Linked DNA regions of Homo sapiens: regions 2 and 3 are each linked to region 1. Evidence: fine-mapped expression QTL. A gene starts in region 1. Each other region holds a variant in brackets. All regions are shown on one strand. Distances are between the middles of the regions.

What was found. PIP is the estimated chance that this variant, and not a neighbour inherited with it, causes the effect.
Region 2: its variant is the best candidate, but not a certain one, in a credible set for the expression of MRPL42 in damaged cartilage (Steinberg 2020, PIP 0.86).
Region 3: its variant is the best candidate, but not a certain one, in a credible set for the expression of MRPL42 in subcutaneous fat (GTEx, PIP 0.56).

Annotation. Positions count from the first base shown.
Region 1 is chr12:93,463,560-93,471,463 of GRCh38, forward strand. It overlaps MRPL42 (mitochondrial ribosomal protein L42), which reads left to right and starts at 3,955. Exons shown (of 6, transcript NM_014050.4): 1 at 3,955-3,995; 2 at 5,633-5,796. The coding sequence starts at 5,727. RefSeq lists enhancers at 3,787-3,846, 3,907-4,176.
Region 2 is chr12:93,638,935-93,646,838 of GRCh38, forward strand. It overlaps the pseudogene LOC642969. Among named protein-coding and RNA genes, the nearest start is that of CRADD, 34 kb to the right of the region's middle. The variant G/GT (reference allele first, on the strand shown) is at 3,374.
Region 3 is chr12:93,386,958-93,394,861 of GRCh38, forward strand. It overlaps NUDT4 (nudix hydrolase 4), which reads left to right. Exons shown (of 5, transcript NM_019094.6): 2 at 7,652-7,762. Among named protein-coding and RNA genes, the nearest start is that of NUDT4, 13 kb to the left of the region's middle. The variant A/G (reference allele first, on the strand shown) is at 4,725.

The DNA.
Region 1 (7,904 bases):
GATCATTCCTAATAGTTTGGTCATAAGATTGCTCTGGAGTCTTTGCTCTCTGATTGATACAAAGAATGACTTTTTTTTCTGGGAAGTTACAGAAGAAAAGGCAATCCTCTTTTAAATGGAAGCCATTTGATGCCAATTCCAAAGTTCTAGAATTTTGTCTGTTTGTCATTTTACTAGCATGAATTTAAAGCATTTGTAGCTGAGCACAGTGGCTCATGCCTATAATCCCAGCACTTTGGGAGGGTGAAGTGTGCGGATCACTTGAGGTGGGCGGATCACTTGAGGTCAGGAGATCGAGACCAGTCTGGCCAACATGGTGAAACTCCGTCTCTACTAAAAATACAAAAATTAGCTGCGCATTGTGGTGGGCACCTGTAATCCCAGCTACTCAGGAGGCTGAGGCAGGAGAATCACTCGTACCCAGGAGGTGGAGGTTGCAGTGAGCCGAGATCACATCACTGTACTCCAGCCTGGGTGACAGAGCAAGACTCCGTCTTAAAAAAATAAATAAATAAAATAAAATAAAGCACTTTTATGTAGGCCAATATAAGTTATTTGCTGGTATTTCAAGTTTGTATTTTTGGAAATTATACTTTTTAAGTTGCTAGCACTGACCTCTTAAGTTAGGAACACTTTGTGACATGGCCTCTCTTAACTACTCTTACATCACAGTATTTGTTTTCCTTCTACCTTTCTCACTGCCACTCCTGGGAGGCCCTTGCTAAAGGTTATCCTCCTCCATCTGATTTCTAAGCCTTCGAATTCCCTGGGGCCAGCTTCTAGGCCCTTTATCTTTTTTTTTCTATACCTAGTCCAACCTCTACTCTCCAAACACACCTCTTCAAGTACCTGCCTTTTGTTTTTTGTTTTTTTGGAGATGGGGCTCTCACTCTGTTACTCAGGCTGGAGTGCAGTGGCATGACCATAGCTCACTGCAGCCTCAACCTCCAGGGCTCAAACGATCCTCCTACCTCAGCCTCCTTAGTAGCTGGGATCACAGGTGTGCATCATCAACCTTACTAATTCTGTTTATTTTTTGTAGAGACAAGGCCTCACTCACTATATTGCCCAGGCTGCTGACTTGTTTTGTATCTCCACTGGAGTGTCTCAGAGCCATCTCAAACTCAACAACTCCCAAACGGAAGTATGCATTTCCACCATCATCAGACTCCCCAAACCTGTTCCTCTTTCAGTCTTCCTTGTCTTATGAAGGGCACCACTGTCAACTAGTCATCAAAGCATCACCTGAAGTATCTTCCTCCCTCTCAATCAATCCATCAGCAAGTTAAGTCATCACTTCCAATTTCAAAATACATCTGGACTCTTCCTGTCTCTCCATCTCCACTGCCACCACCCTCCATCACATGATTTCTTGACTGCAGTACTGCAGTAGCTTCCTTGCTAGACTTGCCTGCGGTCTTGCCACTCTCCAAACCACTCCTCCCAGGGCAGCCAGAGTAACCTTTTAAAAATGGAAATCAAATTATGTCACTTCTTTCATGTAAAAATCTCAAGAGACAGGGCTCACTCTGTCACCCAGGCTGGAGTGCACGGCACGATCATAGCTTACTACCGCCTTGACCTCCTGGGCTCAAGCAATCCTCCCACTTCAGCCTCCCATTCCCAGGGTAACTAGGACTACAGGCACACAGCACCACCTACTCTATTTAATCTCTACATATGTCCTGTGTCCTAACTCCATGTTAACCCCTCCAAGGCTTATGAAGCCCAACATGACCTGGCTCCAAATCTCATCTCCTGCCGCTCTCATCCACACTATCCACCCTACTCCAGTATATGGTAAGCTATTTCCACCACATTAAACCTTTGTGTAAGTTGTTCCCTCACTCAGCCTAAACCTGTCTCTCCCCTCTCTTCCCCCAAAAATGTTGGTTTCTTTTCTGGTCTCAGCTTTGTGAGACCTTCCTTGGTCCCACTAAGTGAGTCTCCCTGTTGGGGACTGGTCCCACTCTGCTCACAGCCATCAAGACTTGACCTCTGGAATTATCTTTGATCCATTCTTCTTACACTTTACGCAGGGAATGTTCAACCAGTCCAGTTGACTGCTCATTCAAATCTGTTTCTCCTCTCTGTCCCTTCCTATTGCACAGTCCAGAAAGACATCATGGGTGGCTTTGGAGGATGGACACGACTGGAAAGGACACAGATGGGCCCTCTGTGGGCTTCTATAAGAGCAAAGATTAGCCTCCTGATATTCCGTGGGAAATGAGGAGACACACTACACAGCCCGTATTTAGTTTTCTTTACTATGTGATGTGTGTTCACTTACTTTCAATACTAGTCACTTCAGGAATATGGTTCTTAACTTGTTGAGGGGTTTATCAATTCCCTGGAATACATAATAAAAGCTATAGATTATTTCTTAGAAAAATATACAAAAGCAAAATTTTGCAAATCATGGGAGAAGGGAATTTCCAGGCGACCGCTTCTGCTTTACCAGCCAATCATCTACTGTCTTGGATACTTGCAGCGTTATCTAGTCTTTTCATTCATTCAGCAAACACTTCCTGGAGACCTATAATGAGACCAAGCACAGTCTGAGATGCTGGGTTTGCATACAGTGAAGAACAAGATAGACATATGTCTCTGTCTTCAAGGAGCTTACATTATCCAGCATAAGAGACATTAAACGAGGTTGGGTGTGGTGGCTCACGCCTGTAATCCAGCCCTTTGAGAGGCCGAGGTGGGCATATCACCTGAGGTAAGGAGTTCGAGATCAGCCGGGCAAACATGGCGAAACCCCATCTCTACTAAAAATACAGAAATTAGCTGGGCGTGGTGGTGGCCACCTGTAATCCCAGCTAATTAGGAAGCTGAGGCAGGAGAATCGCTTGAAGCTGAGAGGCGGAGGTTGCAGTGAGCTGAGATCATGCCACTGCACTCCGGCCTGGGCGATAGAGCAAGACTCCGTCTCAAAAAAAAAAAAAAAAAGAAAGAGACATTCAACGAGCAAACAAATAATCAATATAAAGTCAGGTAATGGTAAATATTCTGAAGGAAAATAAAGCGGGGCATGGAATAAGGGTGGGTGAGGCTATTTTAATGGTGTGGTCCTTTCTAAGATGATATTTGAGAAAGACCTGTAAGGTCATGAGAAGAGGTCAGAGAAGCACATTGCTGGCAATGGGAACAGAGAGTGCAAAGGCCCAGAGGTCTTTCCTTCCTCCTAAGATGGAAAGCGAGGTCCAAGATTCTGCATATTTACTTCCTCCCATAATAGGTAGCCAGCACAGTTCTGAGGGCACAGTGCCAGGTTTTCAGAGTGGAGGTTCTCTTCAGGTTCTGATTTCAAACGTCCAAATCCTAGCCTCCACATTTCAGGGCTTCTCTGGAATGTCTCTTCCCCTGGGAAACTTTAACTCATCTACTAAAGAGCAATCTACGATTTCTCTGAATATTAACATAATTTTTTTAAAAAGTACTTATAGGTTTGCATGGTGGCTCATGCCTGTAATTCCAGCACTTTGGGACGCCGAGGCAGGAGGATTGCTTGAGACAAGCCTGGGCAACATACCGAGACCTCGTCTCTACAAAAATATTAAAAAATTAGCTGGGTGTGGTGGTGTGCGCCTGTAGTACCAGCTACTCAGGAGGCTGAGGTGGGAGGCTCTCTTGGGCCCAGGAGGTAGAGGCTGCAGTGAGCCGTGAGGGAGCCATTGCACTCCAGTCTGGGTGACAGAATGAGACTGCCTCACAAAAAAAAAAAAAAAAAAAAGCTTGTTACTTTCTAAGGGTATGTGTTTGGGGCAGTGATTTTGTTTTTCTGGGCACCTTAGTAACACTGCGGCCACGCTTCCCCAACTAAAGGTAAAAGTCCATAGCAACAATCCTCCCTTTCTCTCTGCACCCGGGCCGCTTTCCCGCGGAGACTACATTTCCCAGAATGCCCCGCGGGCTGGGACGGCGCGCGCAGCGCTGTTTCGTGGGACCAGGATTGAAACAAGATGGCGGGTTCGTGGTGAGAAGCCGTCAAGGTAACCGCTTCCCTCTACTCCTCCTGTCGAGGACTTCCTCGAAACTGGGCAGTCCCACAGTGTTGGTCGGCAGTTGTAGAGGTCTCCCGCCTGTCGTTCCCGGCAGGGCGAGGTTGCCTGCATCCCCAGCCTTTGTCCTTCCTGCAGAAGAGCCGGCATGTGGCTGCGCGTTTCTTATAGCGCCCCCTTTGTTCCCTGGCGGACGCCCGTGGGGAGGTGATGCAGCTTGTGGCTCTAGGGACTCCTTTAGGTCGAAGAGTTCTGGTGCTCTTGGTAGCCTGTTCCTCAAACCTCTGACCCTCAGAGGCTCTGTAGCTTTTGTTTTGGGGTTGAATTCCGGGCTGAGGGACTTGATCTCTGAAATGATCTTCCTGGGGTGAATAATCTGACTCCCAGCAGGGCGTGCTTTTCTCTGGGCTTCGGACAGAGGGGACCTAATTTCCCCCAAGATGTTTTATTCGTGGTCAGAAGTCATGGGTTTACGTCCCACGCATGTATTAAGCAGCGATATACTGAGCAAGTAATCGATTGACCTCTCTGAGCCTTTGTTCTTAATCTGAAATGGAGATGCTGCTTCACACACTTGTGAAAGTCAGAGCACATATTGTATATGAAAGTGGGTTGTAAACTAAAAAGCACACCTATGAGCTCAGGGTTAACGGTGTTAATGTACTGGCAGTGCAAGGTATCAGTGTGAGTGGTTTAGACTAGCAAATAAGAGGGCCTGTGTCCTAATTCTCTTTTATCACTATTGGGGGGAAGGGCACGGATACTCATTGAAGACTATTAAAAACAAGATTTAACAATGGTTATTTGTCATTTATTCACAACAGGCCATGAAGATTGTGGTTTTCCCCATTTTGTCATTGGAGAAACTGAGGATCGTTTAGTTAATGACTTGTTTAAAGTTTCCCAATTTGGCAGTGACTGACTCTAAAGTCCTTGGAAGCAAGACGTTTAAATTTTGTACTTTAGTTTCTTCATGAATCAGAATAAAGATACCTCACATGATTAATACGAGAGCAAAATGAAATGGTGGTGAAAGTACGTTGGAAAGTTAAAGACTTTGTACACATATAAGATGGTGAAATTTTATCTGGGACTTGAGGGCATTTATGAGTTCCTCCAATTGAGTAATAGGCTAAGGATAGGCCTTGTTTGATATTTCTTTATTATTATTATTATTATTAATGGCTCAGGGCAGACAACTATTTCATTTAATCAGAAACAGGATAGTACTGTAAATGATGTAGTATCTTGTGTATGGAACCTTGGAGGGTGTACACAGCCACACTAGCATTAAAAGAATGAATACTCTGTGTACCATTTGTGAGTGACTGTTTCAAGAGTAATTACACATTTACTGAGTATTCATTAAGTGGAAGGAGCTGCACTGGGTCCTGCAGAGAAGTTTGTATCTAAGATAAATAGTAATGGACATAGTTCCAGTGGTTCTGATCTTATATTCTGTCCATGTCGCTCTTCGTCCTGTTGTTCAATCATGTGGAATTGCCAAGTTGTTTAAAAGCATTGCTTCAGTTGACTTCTAGGCAGTGATTCTTACCTTGTTCTTGTGGTGTTTAATATAACTTAAATTTACCATAGGTAGCACTGATTTTTCTTTATCTCTTCAGCAGGAGTAGAAATTGGTATGCTTAGAAGCAGATTCTAAAAGCAGTTTCTCTTCAGAACATCTTTTTTCATACCACTTGATAAGCATCTTGAAACACCATGGCTGTAGCTGCAGTAAAATGGGTGATGTCAAAGAGAACTATCTTGAAACATTTATTTCCAGTCCAAAGTAAGTGAAATTTTTTTTAATGTTTAAAAACTTTTAAACTTTTAAGAATTAAGAAAATTTAAAGCATTTAGTTATTGTATATGCCTGTAATTTGCAGGAGTGTTTGCAGCAATGGAAAGTGGGAGAAAACCTAAATGTCAGTCAGAAGGGGAATGGATAGGTCAGATGTGGTGTCTCATGCCTGTAATCCCAGCACTTTGGGAGGCTGAGGTGGGAGGATTGCTTGAGGCCAGGGGTTTGAGACCAGCCTGGGCAACATAGCAAGACCCCCACCTCTAAAAAAAAATGTGGGTTGGGGAGGGGAATGGATAAATTATGGTACATCTGAACTGTGACTGTCATGTAGCTGTTACTGACATGGAAAGATCTCCAAATAGAAACAAAAAAAGCATGTCAGAACCACATCTATATATATCTATCATATGATCTTATTTGTATGTTTAAAAGATGATCCATCATATGCATGTGTGCATATGCATAAATGCAGAGGTAAAAGGTCTGGACCAAACAGTGGTTATCTGTGTAGCCCACTCTTGGGATTTGGCTGAGGGCAGGAGTAAGGGACTGGTCAAGGGTAACTTTCTCTTGTTCGATTACATGTATTACTTTTTTAGTATTTCTCTCTTTTTTTTTTTTTTAACGGAGTCTGGCTCTGTCGCCCAGGCTGGAGTGCAGTGGCGTGATTACTTTTTTAGTATTTCTTAAAATGTGCGAATAAAGGGTAAATTCACAGTCCCATCTTCCAAAGATAATCATTGTTAATATTTTGGTGGATTGTCATTGTGTTTTTTCTATGTACCTAGCCATTTTTAAAAAAATGAAATGTAATTTCTGCCTTTCTTTTCTAAAGAACTGTATATAGTTAGTATTTTCTCGAAAGCTTGTTAATACATGTTTGACAGTCAAAGCATGGACCCAAATAAGTAAATAGAGTATTAAAGTCTTTTTTCTCAGCCAACTGTGCTTTCTTTTTCCTTTTCCTGTCTGTAAACAGAGTTTATAGCTCTTATAAACAGCTCTTATAGGAAGCTTTCCATTTCTAAAGTAGACATGTATAGAAGGCAACAGTAGGTTTGCCTTTTTATATTAAACTATGTGAGCCAACTTTTTATTTTTATTTTTTATTTTAGATTCGGGCGTACATGTGCAGGTTTGTTACGTGGATGTATTACATATACTGAGGTTTGGGCTTCAACTGAACCCGTCACCCAAATAGTGAACATAGTACCCAATAGGTAGTTTTTCAACTCTTCCCTCCATCCCTCCATTCTGTTTTGAGTCCCCAGTGTTTATTGTTCCCATCTTTGTGTCCATATGTACCCAATGTTTACCTCCTACTTGTAAGTTAGAACATGTAGTATTTGGCTGTTTTTGCATTAATTCACTTAGGATAATGGCCTCCAGCTGCATCTGTGTTGCTGTAAAGGACATGATTTTATTTGTTTTAATGTCTGTGTAATAATCCATGGTATGCATATACACCACATATTCTTCCAGTCCACCATTGATGGGCTTGTTTCCATGTCTTCGCTATTGTGAATAGTGCTCTGATAAACATGCAAGTGCAGCTGACTTTTTAAATACAACTCTGCTTGACCTTGACCTTTGTCTCTTCTTTCTTATTTCCTATTTACCACCATTTGTAATTGAAAGTTTGCTTATTGAATTAGGGAGAAAAGAGCTATTTGAAGAATGGAGTATAAGTAAAGTAATAAATAGGCAATTTGTTATGCTTGAGACGAGGAAAATATTTTACTCAGTAAACACCTTTGTTGAATAGAATGCTCAAAAGTTTGCCAGATCCTACTCTATTTTATTTTATTTTATTTTTTGAGACTGGATCTTGCTCCCAGGCTGGAGTGCAGAGGCATGATCTTGGCACACTGCAACTTCTGCCTCCCAGGTTCAAGTGATTCTCCTGCCTCAGCCTCCCGAGTAGCTGGGATTATAGGCACCTACCACCAGGCCTGGTTAATATTTGTATTTTTAGTAGAGGTAAAGTTTCACCATGTTGGCCAGGCTGGTCTCGAACTCCCAACCTTAAATGATCCTCCTGCCTTGGCCTCCCGAAGTGCTGAGATTACAGGTGTGAGCCATTGCGCCTGGCC
Region 2 (7,904 bases), 180 kb after region 1:
TTAACAGTTTGCTTCCAGCACTTTGTTGTTCACTTTATTCTGTCAAGGTTATTCCTACCTGGCACTTTCCCTTCTCGCTCCAGTAACATTTAAAGACCTTTCCCCCGGCAAAGGCTTTGCTGCCACACTGGAGAGCTTTGATCATCAATTCTGTTAGGCTGGTTGTCAAAGGAGCTGGTGGTGGAAAAAGCCCAGCAGAGGTGGCTGCTGTTAGCTCTGAGGAAACCGAGCAGCTGTTTGCTGTCGTTCCAGGGTTATCTCATAATTTATTGTGCGCAAAGGTGGCTTTACTGTTCTCCTTCATCCTTGTCCTCATCACCCAGGCTCTGACAACCCAGTGCCTTTCATCTGGGTGCCATGACTCAAGGTCTTCACCATTTGTCTTGCTTTTCTTCAGGGCTTTCTGTAAGTTATTCGTGTCAGACACTGGAGTGTCTTCCAATGTCAAACACAAAATGCAGCCCTCCATAGAGAGAGGAGTCCTACTCTTTTGGCTTTGATTGGATTTCTTTCTGAGTTCCAACCAAAACCTCTGCAAAATTGTGAAGAAGATGAAGTGTGTGGTGTGCCTGGACTTTCCTCTTTGCACCCTTCATTTCATTTCTATGTACCCTTTCTCCTGAGAGCTGGTGGCTTCACGCTGTCATTCTCTCTTCCTCCAGACTGTAAGTAATCTAATAAAATCACTCACACTAAGAGGTTAGGAGTTTAATTCTGTCTCTCCCAGCGGCTCTTGCACACAATGAAGTGGAAAGAGAGCCCAGCATTAGAGTTTGAAGGATTTAATTCCAGCCATGGCTCTACTTGCTGTTGCAGGACTTACACAATTCACATCATTTCTCTGGGACTCTGTTTCTCCTTCAGCAAAATGGGAATGATAGTAAGATCTACCTCACAGGTTTGATGTAAAAGTTAAATGAGATTGTCATAATGTTTTATCATCTGAAAGTGTTTTTTTTTTTTTTTTTTTGCACATCACTCCTTTATTATACTGATATGGAAAAAGGATTTAGTACAGTTATGCTCAGATGAACACTGGACCCATGTGGCAGGGTCAAGCAACTAGAACATGATTCAGAAATCAGTGAAAGATACACTTGGACAGGACCAAGAGGCATTTCACTGCCATGAAACAAGGCAGGAAGGGATTCTAATACACACACCAGGAAGCACTCCTGCCCCTCAGAGGTCAAGGAGCTGATCCTATATTGGTATGAGGAATGGCTTATTTTCTGATGACCACATGTGGGACTATTTCAACCGCCACAAGAAACCCCAGAAGGGTTATTGTTTTGTATTATTTATATATACTATACTTTTTTAATAAAAGTAAATTAACACATAACGAAATTCAGGATTGATCCCAACCTAGAGCCAGATCCTCTGGGGTCAGGGAGGAAACAGTTGTCACATCACCACGCAGGTTACATTCGTCTTCCACTGGAATGACTAGAGCCCCCAGGCAGTAGGCAGTGGCCTGACTGCAGAAGAGCAGAGGACAGACTCCGCTCATGGGGACAGACAGGCTCTGTTGCTTCTCCTCACTGGTCATGGCTTAGCATGGTTCCTCCCCAAAGTCCTTAGTAAACAAAGCACTCGCAAAAACCCAAGTCACTACTTTTAAACTCTGTTGGATAAGGGGAGCTTTTCCATAGCTTAGACTGAGAACCTGTGCTCTAGAACTGCTATTCTGACTAGATTGTATGAAGGGAGTGGGTGCAGGCGACAAAATGGCTAAAATGAAAATGGGAGCCACTGGTCCCCATCTGCAGCTACAACTCAAGATGTCTACAGATGTGGTCAGTGTGACATGTGCAGGTGGGAGGGGCAGAGGGACAAGACGGGCAGGGAGGGTGCTCCTGGGGACAGTATCCTCCCCGCCGGCCTTCACTTCTTGGCCTTGCCCTGGGCAGCCACAGCTTCCATGGCTTTGCGCACCGTCTCTTCATCCCCCAGAAACTGCATGGGCTTGATAGGCTTCAAGTTCTTGTCCAATTCATAGACAATGGGAATACCAGTCGGCAGGTTCAGCTCCATGATAGCCTCTTCAGAGAGACCCTCCAGATGCTTGACAATGCCCCGGAGGCTGTTGCCATGGGCTGCAATCAGTACACGTTTCCCCTCCTTGATCTGGGGAACTATTTCTTCATTCCAGAAGGGCAGAGCTCTGGCAATAGTATCCTTCAGACTCTCACAGGAGGGTAGCTGATCTTCTGTGAGGTCTGCATACCTACGATCCTTACTGATGTTGCTGTAGAAAGGATGGTCGGGCTCCATCGGAGGTGGTGGGACATCATAGGAGCGCCTCCAGATCTTCACCTGGGCCTCACCATGCTTTGCAGCAGTTTCTGCTTTATTGAGACCGGTTAGACCCCCATAGTGCCGCTCATTGAGGCGCCAAGTCCTCACCACTGGCAGCCACATCTGATCAATGGCATCTAGCACTGTCCAGAGGGTCCGGATCGCTCTCTTCTGCACTGAGGTGAAGCAGATGTCAAACTCATAGCCAGCATCTCGTAGCGCCTGCCCGCCGCGCTTCGCCTCCTCGTGGCCCGCCGGGCTCAGGTCGGCGTCGTACCAGCCGCTGAAGCGGTTCTCCAGGTTCCATGCGCTCTCGCCGTGCCGGATCAGCACCAGTTTGTAGGCGGCCATGGCGGCGGGCTGGGGATGCGGCACCGACTGTGAAAGTGTTTTGATTATTTGTTAGTCCATAAATACTAGAAACTCACTTGTGCTAGCTTGAGTAAGGATATTGGATTTGACCAATTAAGTGTCATACAGCACAAGATCAAGAAGGAACCCAAGACATTATCTTTCCCGTATGTAGCAGATCCTTCCAGGGTTCACAAATATCTGGTTCTTTTTACCTTTGTAGGCACAAAGTGAAGTTAAATTTTCTAGTCTTCTTTGCATCTAGATAGAACTGTTACCAAACCAAACTGGGTTCGTTTGCCTGCATGCAATGGAAAGCGAAACACTGAAGCACTGCATTTTTGCAGCAAAAAGGCTTATTGCCAGTGAACTGGCAAGGAGACAGGAGGAAATGCTCAAATCTGACTCCCCAAGCTGAGGGCTGGGTTGGGTTTCATAAGCATAGTGTAGTGAGGTGTGATCTGATTGGATCTTACAATGCGGTGGTGCCAGGAGGCATGATCTGTTGGGATTCTGCCATGGAGTTACACCAGGGCTCAATCTGATTAGATTCTGGATCCTACCATGAAGGAATCCAAGACGTTCCAAGATGTCTGCTTCTTGATTCAGTCCTTGCCCCTCAGTGCAAGCACTTTGGTTCCACTTGTGGTTGCACGCTTGGTTCATCTGGGCATGCTCAGATTACATGACCTTCAACCTTGGGGTGGGGGGGTGGTCCATG[G/GT]GACTAAAAAATAACTCACAACTTTGTTACATAGGAGTTGAACCAGATTGATCCAGGGCAGTTACAGAACTATGTGATTGAGTTCTGGCTAATGGATAGTGGAAGGAAGTGAGGTATGCCTATTCCAGCATACATCACAAAATGTCTCTTGTGATCTTTCACGTTCTCTCTCTTCCTCCCCTCTCCTGGCTGGGATGATATCATGGGGCTCTTGAAGCCATAAGATGATGGAGACATGAGATAGAAGGAGCCTGGGTCCCTGAGTCACCACTTGGAAAGAGCTCACAGGAAAGCTATCTAACCAGCATCATCAGATTCGAATTTTTGCATGAGGAAGAAATAAACTTGTATTGTCTTAAGCTACTGAGATTTGGGGCTGTTTCTTATAGTGGGTAGTCTACCTTAATACATACACTGTATCTCAGGTCTGCTTCTCCCTGCCCCCTGCATCTTGCTGCACACCACTTTCTCTGCCTTCTTATTCATCATGGTGGAAAAAAGGCCTCCAGGAACAACAACCAAGTTGACTTCTCTTCTATTCAGGGAAACAGGCTGATTGCAACTAAAAACACTTCATTTATTTCAAATTCCTTTGAGAAGACTGGGTTAGGTCCAGCTGGTATTGGATGTTGACTGAACCAATCAACTTGTAGTGTCTATGAGGATAGGGGAAGGACAATACCCCAGAAAAATGGTGGTTGGCAGCCATCCTAAAATGTAGTTGACGCTGTGCTCCATGCTTGCAGTTAACATTTTTAAAAAGAAACATGGGGAGAGTGAAGACATACATTTCTTTTTATATACCCCAAAAGAATGAATCTCTATGGATGTCTTTTCAGTGTTCAGTTAGTGATTTACATTTTGGGGCTGGGTAGCTTTTCCCAATTGCTCTCAAATTATATAGCTTGAATGCAACAATATTGCCCATCCAGTGTTGGAAAGCACAGAGTTAGGGGCTGCAGGCTCTGGCCTGTGGGGCACACTGGACACAAGAACCATGCTAAAATATGCAGGTAAGTAAGGGGTAAGAATCATTATCCATGCATTGGTACTTAAAGTGTGGTGCAGCAAAGTCCATAAAGTGACCTTGACGTGGTGCTGCAAGATGTGGTGGACAAAAATTAGAGTTCGATTCTCTCCAAAGCTGATTCTCCATGTATGCTTTCTCCTCTGCCTGAAACACCCTTTTCCCTTCACCAGCAGATAATCCTGGCTGACTTCAGGACTCAGCTCCAGCACACCTTCTAGAAATGGCCCACTCCCACTTAGGGTTAGGCCACCTCTCCTTTGTGCTCTGTTATAATACCCAAATGTGATTCAGTTTTTAAAAATAACATTTTTTCCCTTCAGTTGCAAAGGGAAAAAATGTTAATGCTACAAACTGAAAAGTCCAAATGAGCTCAAAAAAGAAAATAAGAGTCTCTCATTATTCCACTCTCTAGGGGAGTATACGTACACACACACACACACACACACACGTAACATGCTTCTAAAAATTTTTGCTTTTGTACTTTTATCTCTTAACAGTATGTCATGAAGATTTTCCCACTCATTTACAATATGATTTATGAATATGTAGTAGCTTATGGAATCTCATAATTTCTTAACCAAATTCATATTGTTGGACATTTATGACTGTTTCTAATTTTTCATTATAGTAAATGAACTCCATTCAAGTCTGTCCTATTCAAGAGAACAGCCTGATTGCAACTAGATAGACTTGTATGTAAAGTTTTGCATATTTTCTTAGTTATTTCTTCAAGATAAAAACCTAGGATTAGATTGCTGGATCAAGAGGTATATAAACAAGGCAGGAAAGCAGAGAGTATTCATTACTGTCTTGGGTCCCTTTCTAAGAAAGAAGAGAATCTTTCTAGGTACCCCCTCTCCCTAGCAGATTTCCCTTTGTGTCTCATGGACAGAATTCCATCACATGCTGTATCAGTCTGTTCTCACGCTGCTAATAAAAACATACCCAAAACTGGATAATTTGTAAAGGAAAAAGGTTTAATTGACTCACAGTTCCACATGGCTGGGGAGGCCTCACGATCATGGCAGAAGGCAAATGAGGAGCAAAGTCAAGTCTTACATGGCGGCAGGCAAGAGGGCTTGTGCAGGGGAACTCCCATTTATAAAACCGTCAGAGCTCATGAGACTTATTCACTACCATGAGAACAGTATGAGGGAAACCACCCCCATGGTTCAGTTGTCTCCACCTGGCCCTGCACTTGACACATGGGGATTATTATAATTCAAGGTGAGATTTGGGTGGAGACACAGCCAAACCATATTACATGCATATGCAGAAACTAGGTACCAGCAAGGGTAGTGAGACTATGATCAGTTTAGACCATCCAGATATTTCCTATAAGATTCAATACCTCAGAATTTTTTTTTCTGTTAATTAGGAAGATTTGGGAGTAGCTGTGGTACAGGAACCAAGTCCTTTTCATACTTGCTACAGAATAATAAAATGTTTAAAAATCTGTTCTAAGTTAATAGGTAACAGTTCCTTCTTGTCATCTTTGTTTATATTTTATTGATTACTGGTAGATGTGAACAGTGTTTCAAATATGTATTGGTCATTGTATTTCTTCTGTGATTTACTGAGTCATATTATACCTATGCATCCTTTAAAAAGTGACTGTTTTATTTTTGAATTCTACGGAGCAGCAAATTATGTCAGCCATATAGTTAGCACAAAGTAAAAGCTCATCAGGTGAATAAACATGTATGTGCTTGCACACAGTTTGCTGTGTGTTTTGTAGTTATAAATAATAGTAGATGGGAGAGTGGTTCCTAGTGCAATTGGCCTACAGAGACTAAAAAGTTGTGGAGAACAGACTTAAGGTAGTCCTGAAACAGAATAAGACATCAGGCAGTCACATCTAAAATTCAGCTTTCTGGGCCAGGCACAGTGGCTCACACCTGTAATTCCAACACCTTTGGAGAAGACCAAGTTGGGTGGATCACTTGAGTCCAGTAATTCGAGACCAGCCTGGGCAACACGGCAAGACCCTGTCCCTACAAAAAATACAAAAATTAGCCAGGCATGGTGGTGCACATCTGTAGTCCCAGCTACTTGGGAGGCTGAGGCGGTGGGATCCCCTGAGTCCAGGGAAGTTGAGGTTGCAATGAGCCGTGATCATGCCACTGCACTCCAGACTAGACGACAGAGTGAGACCCTGTCTCAAAAGTAAAATAAAACAAAACCCGACTTTCTTTTCTGTTAGTCTAATGTATTTTTTCACTGGCTAGCTTTTGAATCAATTTTACAATGATCACGACAATGTCATCTTTATTTAAGCTGAAAAATCTTTGTTGGGTTCGGAGAAAAAAAAATCTATCACTCAAAGGAAAAACAAGAACAATAACAAAAACTAGACATTAATTATGGAATTGTTGCCTGGCTGTAATCCTTTTGTTAGTGAGTCCTTGCATAATTATCACCCAGTTTAATGAGTGTGAATTTGCAGGTAGGAGAAATTATCATGATATCTTAAGGCTAAAATTACAGTGCTCTAGAGAGCAATGGCGAGAAACATCAGTCTATTGCCAGAAACCTAATATGGTGAGTCATCAGTTTGAATCCTGAGGTTTATGGAGATGGAATAAGCAGGAGGGACTCCCAGAAACTTCTTTTGACAATAGGAGGCTTGGCAGTTGGTCTTACAAACCCAGGAGCTTGAAGTTCTAAATGAGGAAAGTACACAATTTTAAAATGTCATGATAAAAAATGTAAAAGAAATCTTTTTTGTTTAGAGATTAAAAAAACAAGATCTACCTTCTATGGAGCCTTAAGCAAGTGAATAAGGTCTTCTTTAAAATGTAGCTAATGACATACATCAGCACAGCGAGAAATCAGCATTGCATCCAGGTAATGAATAATTATGTACCCTACGGTCTATCAATAACCAATTATCTGGTTATGCTAACATACCCAACCGTCATGTGCAAGTAGTTATTTAGATTTTGTAATAATTGATTATTGAATTGACTTTTACAATAATTTATCTAATTCTAACTGCTTATGCTTATGTTTTATTTTACCTTAAAGAATGAATGCATCAAATCACTTTCTTTTTTAAAAAAATAATTAAAAATTGAAATGACTTTTGCATGAAGGATATGCAGACCATTCAAAGACTGTGTAATTGATCAGAAGATTCTATAATTGTTTGCAAAAGCTAAAATTCTCCATCATCTTGACGGGAGAGCAATCAATAGCAATGACAAGCTGATGAGAATTACAAAGCACATATGTGTTGAAATTCACTTACTCTTCAGGCATTCAGGTATGTGAAGAGATTATAGAAACATGCCGATAAGAAAGAGGCCATACAATTCTGACCAGTTTCCTCCCTGCCAAATCCACACGAGTCTCTGACCAGGGGTAGCATCCCCTAGAGCAGAAACCCTGCCCTGCTCATTCTATAAAATGATCACAGGTAGAGAATTAACTTTGGACTGATGTTATAGACTGAATGTTCATGTCTCCCCCAAATTCATATGTTGAAGTCTTAACCTCCAA
Region 3 (7,904 bases), 77 kb before region 1:
CAGTCTCACTGTGTTGCCCAGGCTGGAATGCAGTTGCGCTATCTCAGCTCACTGCAAACCGCCTCCTGGATTCAAGTGATTCTCCTGCCTCAGCCTCCCGAGTAGCTGGGATTACAGGCGTGCACCACCATGCCCAGCTACTTTTTATGTTTTTGGTAGAGATGAGGTTTCACCATGTTGGCCAGGCTGGTCTTGAACTCCTGACCTCAAGTGATCCTCCTGCCTCGGCCTCCCAAAGTGCTGGGATTACAGGTATGAGCCACTGCACCCGGCTAGACTGTTTTATTTGCATGCTCTTTACAAAACGTGTTTTTTCAAGCTGAATTGCTTTAGTAGTTCCATAAAAATGTAGTCCAGAAAAATCTACATTGATGATTTTCATTTTCAACAGATTCCAAGTGAATTCAACAGAAAAGCTGTAATTCTTGAGTTCCTGATAGTTCTGGAGTGACAGTACTCCACTACGGTGCAACTCCTCACCACCATCCCCAGTTTCTCTTTTATAATCTCAGGCTTTTTAACTTGGTGAAATGTTTTTCTGGAAAGAGAAATGGTCATATAGCACTGAACAATAGAGCAGGTGTGGCGGTTCTTAGGAAACACTGAGTTATGTTTTCATCTTAATCTCAACCCCTTGCCTAAAAAGTTGTTAGTGTCCTCTGTTGTCTGCCTAATTAAAATATAAACATGCTCCAATGTGATACCAACTTTTTTTCATCTGTACTGGTCTAGATCTAGTGCTGGGGACCGCTTCCAAGTGCATGACAGACCCCAGGTGATCACAGGATGGCCTAGCTATCACACTAGTTGGCCTTAAGTTAAAAGACTTTTCACTGTTATTGGGGTTGGGGGCAGGCAGGGGACTGTTTTAATTGTCCTTCTCTCTACTAATGCTGTTCATATTTTTCCACCCTGGCAGACATACGCCATCATCCAGTCTATTCTCTTATCTGGAGTGTATCCCTCAGTTCTTGCTCACTCTTAGTCACTGCCTTCTCCCCACCACCACCCCCCCAGATGTGGCCTTGCCCTCATTTGAACACTCAAATGAACTATTCAAGATGAGTAGGCAAGTACTTAATGAAACAGACAGACTTTCAAATCTGTCACCATGACATCTGTGTGAGACCTCTTTTCATAAGCTAGTTGTTTAGATGGCCAGTCATTTCTATATCACAGATATTAAGTACCCATTTAAAGCGATCATTTTATGGAAAGATAATTTGAAGTTATTGGTCTGACCAAATTTATTCTTCCTGAGATGTCAAGGGACTCTTGGATGATAAGTTACTGGATTAGGCTAAATCGTTTGTCCACAATTTATAATGATATAGATTTATATAGATGTATGTGTTCTTGCAGTTTTTAGACACAAAATATTGAGCATTCTATGTGACTGTATTCCAACCCCACCTCCAAGAATATAAGCTCTTTGAGGGAAAGATGTATATTCAGTATCTTTTCATCACATACAATTCTTGTTGAGTATCACACAATTAGTAGATAAGGAACAAAATCAGCAACTTCTTTCTCCACAGTGCTTCTCTTTAAGGTGGAGAACTTGTGCTGAATTGTCACTTTTTGACAGGAGTCAGTCTGTTCTCTGTCCTTCTAGAGGCTGAAGATTGTAAAGACAAAAGTGAATGGATTTAGTTTGGATACCATGTGCATGATGCTTCTTTCCTGCTAGCCCATTTTCATGATTCTGATTTTCTTTCGAAAAGCATTTTAAAGTGGTAAGGTTTTGCATGAAAATTTAAGTGGATAAATAACTAACAGTTACATATTTTACCTGTTCTGAAAAGGATATACCATTAATTGGCTGTAGATGTCCAATATGTGACCCTTGAGATGAGCACTTGAAATATGACTGGACTAAGGAATTGAATTTTAAATTTTATTTAATCTTAAATTTAGCCATATGATGCTAGTGGTGACTGTGTTAGCTGTAGACCCTCAAAAGCATGAAAGGTTCAAAAGTAGCAGAGTTTAGGACAGACTGGAATTAATTGGCAGATCAAGGGCCCAGAGGAGCCCAATTCTATCTGCAGGTTTGTCAATTTAGATGAGTAGACAAGTGCTTAATGAAACATGCTGGATTTTAAAACTACCATCACCAAAAGTTGGATATTAGCACATCTGCCTTAAGCTAGTAGTTTAGATGTGAATCATTTCTGGACCATAGATAATTACTCATTTAAATTTATCGGCCTTTTTTTTGAAAGATACATTTGGCTGGGTGTGGTGGCTCATGCCTGTAATCCCAGCAGTTTGAGAGGCTGAGGCGGGCAGATCACCTGAGGTCTGGAGTTCAAGACCAGCCTGACCAGCATGGAGAAACCCCGTCTCTACTAAAAATACAAAATTAGCTGGGCGTGGTGGCGCATGTCTGTAATCCCAGCTACTTGGGAGGCTGAGGCAGGAGAATCGCTTGAACCGGGGAGGCGGAGGTTGCAGTGAGCCGAGATTCTTATATCATAAATTACTGGATTGTGCTAAATCACTTATCAAATTTATATACTATTTTCATGAGGCTTTCTAAAAAGTAATTTATGAAAGAGAGATGTTGAGACACAAGGGTTCCATATTACTCATTTTTGGAAGAAAAGTTTAGTCATGCTGATGTCTTGTAGATGCAGGATTGGTTTTAAATCTGAAGCATAGACCGGGCGCGGTGGCTGACACCTGTAACCCCAGCACTTTGGGAGGCCGAGGCAGGTGGATCACGAGGTCAGGAGTTCAAGACCAGCCTGGCCAAGATGGTGAAACCCCATCTCTACTAAAAGTACCAAAATGAGCTGGGCATGGTGGTGGGAGCCTGTAATCCCAGCTACTCGGGAGGCTGAGGGAGGGAATTGCTTGAACCAAGGAGGCGGAGGTTGCAGTGAGCCGAGATTGCACCACTAGACTCAAGTCTGAATGACAGAGCGAGACTCTGTCTCAAAAAAAAAAAAATCTGAAGCATAAAATGTTTCTTCAGAAAAGCAGACACATCTTATACTAATGGTTTTTCAACATTATTAATCTCCTGTAATTTAGCTCTGTCTTGGAGAACTGGAAACATCATAGTCAATGACCTAGATACATGAGACTTTGCATTTCATTTATTCAGGACTGCAACATTTTGAATATGGATGATTTTGAACTCCCTATTTACTATTTACTAAGTGATGATGTACTTTTCAGGCGGCTAGCCACCTGCGTTATGTCCCATTATTAACGTAATCCAGGAAGTTGCTTAGAGAGCATAGAATTGTGTAACAAGAATTTCATCTAGGCAATAGAAACCAGTTTATTCCTAACCCAAACCTAGTGACCAGAAAAAGAGGCCTGTAACTCTGCAGTCCGGACCAGTAGTTGCTGTTTACTTTTCCAGTGATGCGAGACAAACTCTTAACATTTTTATTTAACTTAAAAACTAACATTCACTTGCCAGTCTTGATAGAGGGCCAGTGCCTTTGGTTGCCATAGATCCTCTGTAAGCCTCCAATTTTGAATAAAATACAAAGGTTTTGAAATCTGATTTGTAGTTTCTCTGTTGAAAGTAGAATTTGAACTTAGAGACCCTTGCATGCACTTTTGGATTTTTAATTTTCTTTTTCTAATTTTCTATAAAGTCTCATCTGGGTATAATTTGATAATGTAATAACCCCCCCTCCCTTTTTTTGAGACAGTCTCATTCTGTCGCCCAGGCTGGAGTGCAGTGGCATGATCACAGCTCACTGTAACCTCGACCTCCTGGGCTCAGGTGATCCCTTCCACCACAGCCTCCTGAGTAGCTGGTATTATGGGCACATGTCACCATGCATGGCTGATTTCTGTATTTTTTTGTAGAGGGAGTTTTGCTGTGTTGCCCAGGCTGTTCTCACACCTGCCCGCCTTGGCCTCCCAAAGTGCTGGGATGGGATTACAGGCGTGAGCCACCATGCCTGGCCTGGAATGCTGCTTTTCTAAGAGGAGGTTCTATGCCTAAATAGATACTCTCTTTTAACTCAGCATTTTGGGGGCTTGAGAGAAGGGTGGGAGTTGCTGAATTGTCAGCTTGAAACTTTCCAGTTTGGAAAAGTTCCTGGTAACTTAGTCAAATGAGAGAGGACTCCTGTGCTGGCTGAGAACTCTTAAAGGCCAGCAGCTCCTGGCAGCAGGGAGGGAGCAGGGCAGATAGAAGTGCTGGCATGCATTTAAAAGAAAAAAAAATCAGTCATGGCTCTTGCCTGTAATCCCAGTTGGGAGGCCAAGGTGAGAAGATCACTTGAGCCCATGGTTTTGAGACCTGTCTAGGCAACATGGCAAGACCCCACCTCTACAAAATAATACGAAAATCAGACTGGGCATGGTGGCTTACTCCTGTAATCCCAGCACTTTGGGAGGCCAAGGCAGGCAGATCACTTGAAGTCAGGAGTTTGAGATCAGTCTGGCCAACGTGGCGAAACCCCATCTCTACTCAAAATACAAAAATTAGCTGGTCTTGGTGGGAGGTGCCTGTAATCCCAGCTACTTTGGAGGCTGAGGTGGGAGAATCACTTGAACCCGGGAGGCAGAGGTTGCTGTGAGCCAAGACCATGCCACTGCCCTCCAGCCTGGATGATAGGACGAGACTCCATTTCAAAAAAAAAAAAAAGTACAAAAATTAGCCAGGCCTGGTGGTGGGTGCCTGTACTCCCAACTGCTCGGGAAGCTGGAGTGAGAGGATCACTTGAGCCCGGGAAGTGAAGGCTGCAGTC[A/G]GCAGAGATTGTGTCACTGCACTCCAACGTGGATGTCCAAGTGAGACCCTGTCTTAGTTATCATCATCATCTCTATGCACACTGGGAATTAAACTTCGTGATAAACCCTATGTGTTTTCGAGGGAGAACTGTTTAAATTTACTTGAAGGTAGTATACTAAGATAATTTTGTGGACACTTTTGTTCAAATTGACTTATTTATTTTTATTTTTTATTTTTTTGAGACAGAGTCTCACTCCATTGCCCAGGCTGAAGTGCAGTGGTGCAGTCTCGGCTCACTGCAACCTTCGCTTCCTGAATTCAAGCAATTCTTGTGCCTCAGCCTCCTGAGTAGCTGGGACTACAGGAATGTGCTACCACACCCAGCTAATTTTTGTATTTTTAGTAGAGATAGGGTTTCACCATGTTGGCCAGGTTGGTCTTGAACCCCTGACCTCAGATGTCCACCCACTTCAGCCTCCCAAAGTGCTGGGATTATAGGCATGAGCCACCACGCTCACCTTGAGTTGATTTTAACTTAAGTGAAGTTCAACCTAAGCTAGCCCACAAATATTCCTTTGTTTCCCCCCCCCCCTTTTTTTTTTCCTTTTTTTGAGACAGAATCTAGCTCTGTTGCCCAGGCTGGAGTGTAGTGGCATGATCTCGGCTCACTGCAACCTCCGCCTCCCAGGTTCAAGTGATTCTCCTGCCACAGCCTCCTAAGTAGCTGGGATTACAGGTGCCTTCCACCACGCCCGGCTAATTTTTTGTATTTTTAGTAGAGATGGGGTTTCACCATGTTGGCCAGGCTGGTCTTGAACTCCTGACCTCAGGTGATCTGCCCACCTCAGCCTCCCAAAGTGCTAGGATTACAGGCATGAGCCACTGCGCCCGGCCAGATATTCATTTAAAAGATGGGTATGTAATACCTGTTACCTGTTAAATAAAATCTAGGATACTTGTCTAAGGTAATAGGGTATTTTTGTAACAATTTGTAGATTTCAGTCTTTTTTTTTTTTTTTTTTCCCCCGAGATGGAGTCTTGCTCTGTTGCCCAGGCTGGAGTGCAGTGGTGCAATCTCTGCTCACTGCTCACTGCAACCTCCGCCTCCCAGGTTCAAGTGATTCTCATGCCTCAGTCTCCCGATTAGCTGGGATTACAGGCATGCACCACCACACCTGGCTAATTTTTGTATTTTTAGTAAAGACGGGGTTTCACCATGTTTTGTCCAGGCTGGTGTGGAACTCCTGACCTCAGGTGATCTGCCCACCTCAGCCTCCCAAAGTGCTAGGATTACAGGCATGAGCCACTGCGCCCGGCCAGATATTCATTTAAAAGATGGGTATGTAATACCTGTTACCTGTTAAATAAAATCTAGGATACTTGTCTAAGGTAATAGGGTATTTTTGTAACAATTTGTAGATTTCAGTCTTTTTTTTTTTTTTTTTTCCCCGAGATGGAGTCTTGCTCTGTTGCCCAGGCTGGAGTGCAGTGGTGCAATCTCTGCTCACTGCTCACTGCAACCTCCGCCTCCCAGGTTCAAGTGATTCTCATGCCTCAGTCTCCCGATTAGCTGGGATTACAGGCATGCACCACCACACCTGGCTAATTTTTGTATTTTTAGTAAAGACGGGGTTTCACCATGTTTTGTCCAGGCTGGTGTGGAACTCCTGACCTCAGGTGATCGCCCACCTCGGCCTCCTAAAGTGCTGGGATTATAGATGTGAGCCACCACGCCCGGCCACATTTCAATCTTAATGCTATTCTTGGTAAGGGGTCCATAGACTTCCAAATTAAGGGCCAGACAAACATTTTAAGTTTTGAGGGCCACACAGTCTCTGTCACAACTGCTTTGACTCTGCTGTTGCATCATTAAAACAACCAGACAATATGTAAAAATGAGTAAGTGACTCGATTCTAATAATTCCATCTGTGGACACTGAAATTTGAATTTCACATAATTTTAAAATGTAAAAATACTTCTGGCTCACAGACTGTACAGGTGGTGAGCTGCAGACTGCCAGTCCTGTTCTAGATCATAAATGATAGCTGCCTGTTAGAAGAATGAAGTGACTTTTGCCTATGTATGCAGGTTTAAAATGTGAAGGATGCTTCTTGCCACCTAATCATAACAGTAACAAGCACTCTGTATCAAGAATCGTCTTTATGTGCATTTCCCTATTTCTTTCTCACACATCTGTTATCTTCTTAGTATTCTTATTTTTTAGGTGAGGAAACAAGGTAACCTACCTATGGTCATTTCCTTAAATTTGGAATATTCCATAACTAAATAAACTTATGTGACCATAGACCTCAGTGCATACAACTCTGGCTAATAAGCCAAGTTTCTGTTTTTTGTTTTTTTGAGATGGAGTCTCTGTCACCCATGCTGGAGTATGGTGGCACGATCTCAGTTCATTGCAACCTCCACCTCCTGGGTTCAAGCGATTCTCCTGCTTCAGCCTCCCAAGTAGCTGGGACTATAGGCGCCCGCCACCATGCCTGGCTAATTTTTTTAGTAGAGACGGGGTTTGGGGTTTCACCATGTTAGCCAGGATGATCTCGATCTCCTGACCTCTTGATCCGCCCGCCTCGGCCTCCCAGAGTGCTGGGATTACAGGCGTGAGCCACCGCGCCCAGCCAAGTTTCTGTTTTTATCCTTTGTTATTATCCAATAATTTGAGAGTTTTACCACCAGTAGTTTATTTCATTAGATAAGGTGATTTGGTAGTGTGACCATGTTAATGTTAATTCTGATTTCAGAAAGATGGTGTTTAACAAAGGTTGTCAATTGCATTTTTGTGGTGTAATGCGTACCCCCTAATTTTAATTAAATTTTAAAATATTTTAATCTAGAATAGAGTTATAACCTTGCAGAGGTTTGAGAATGTTGTTTATATACGAAGTGCTTCTCAGGCTGGAAGTATACAGTTATGGTTCACCTTACAGGTGCTGCTGGTGAGTAGCAGCCGGTACCCAGACCAGTGGATTGTCCCAGGAGGAGGAATGGAACCCGAGGAGGAACCTGGCGGTGCTGCCGTGAGGGAAGTTTATGAGGAGGTGAGATGTTCTTTCACACAAATTCTGTTTCGGAGTTTTAAAAACAAGGCCCTTTGCTACATAACACTAAGACAGCGAGACGGGTCCAGGAGTGCTTTTTGCCTGATGCAACTTTATTTTTAATTTTAATTTTTTTTTTTAT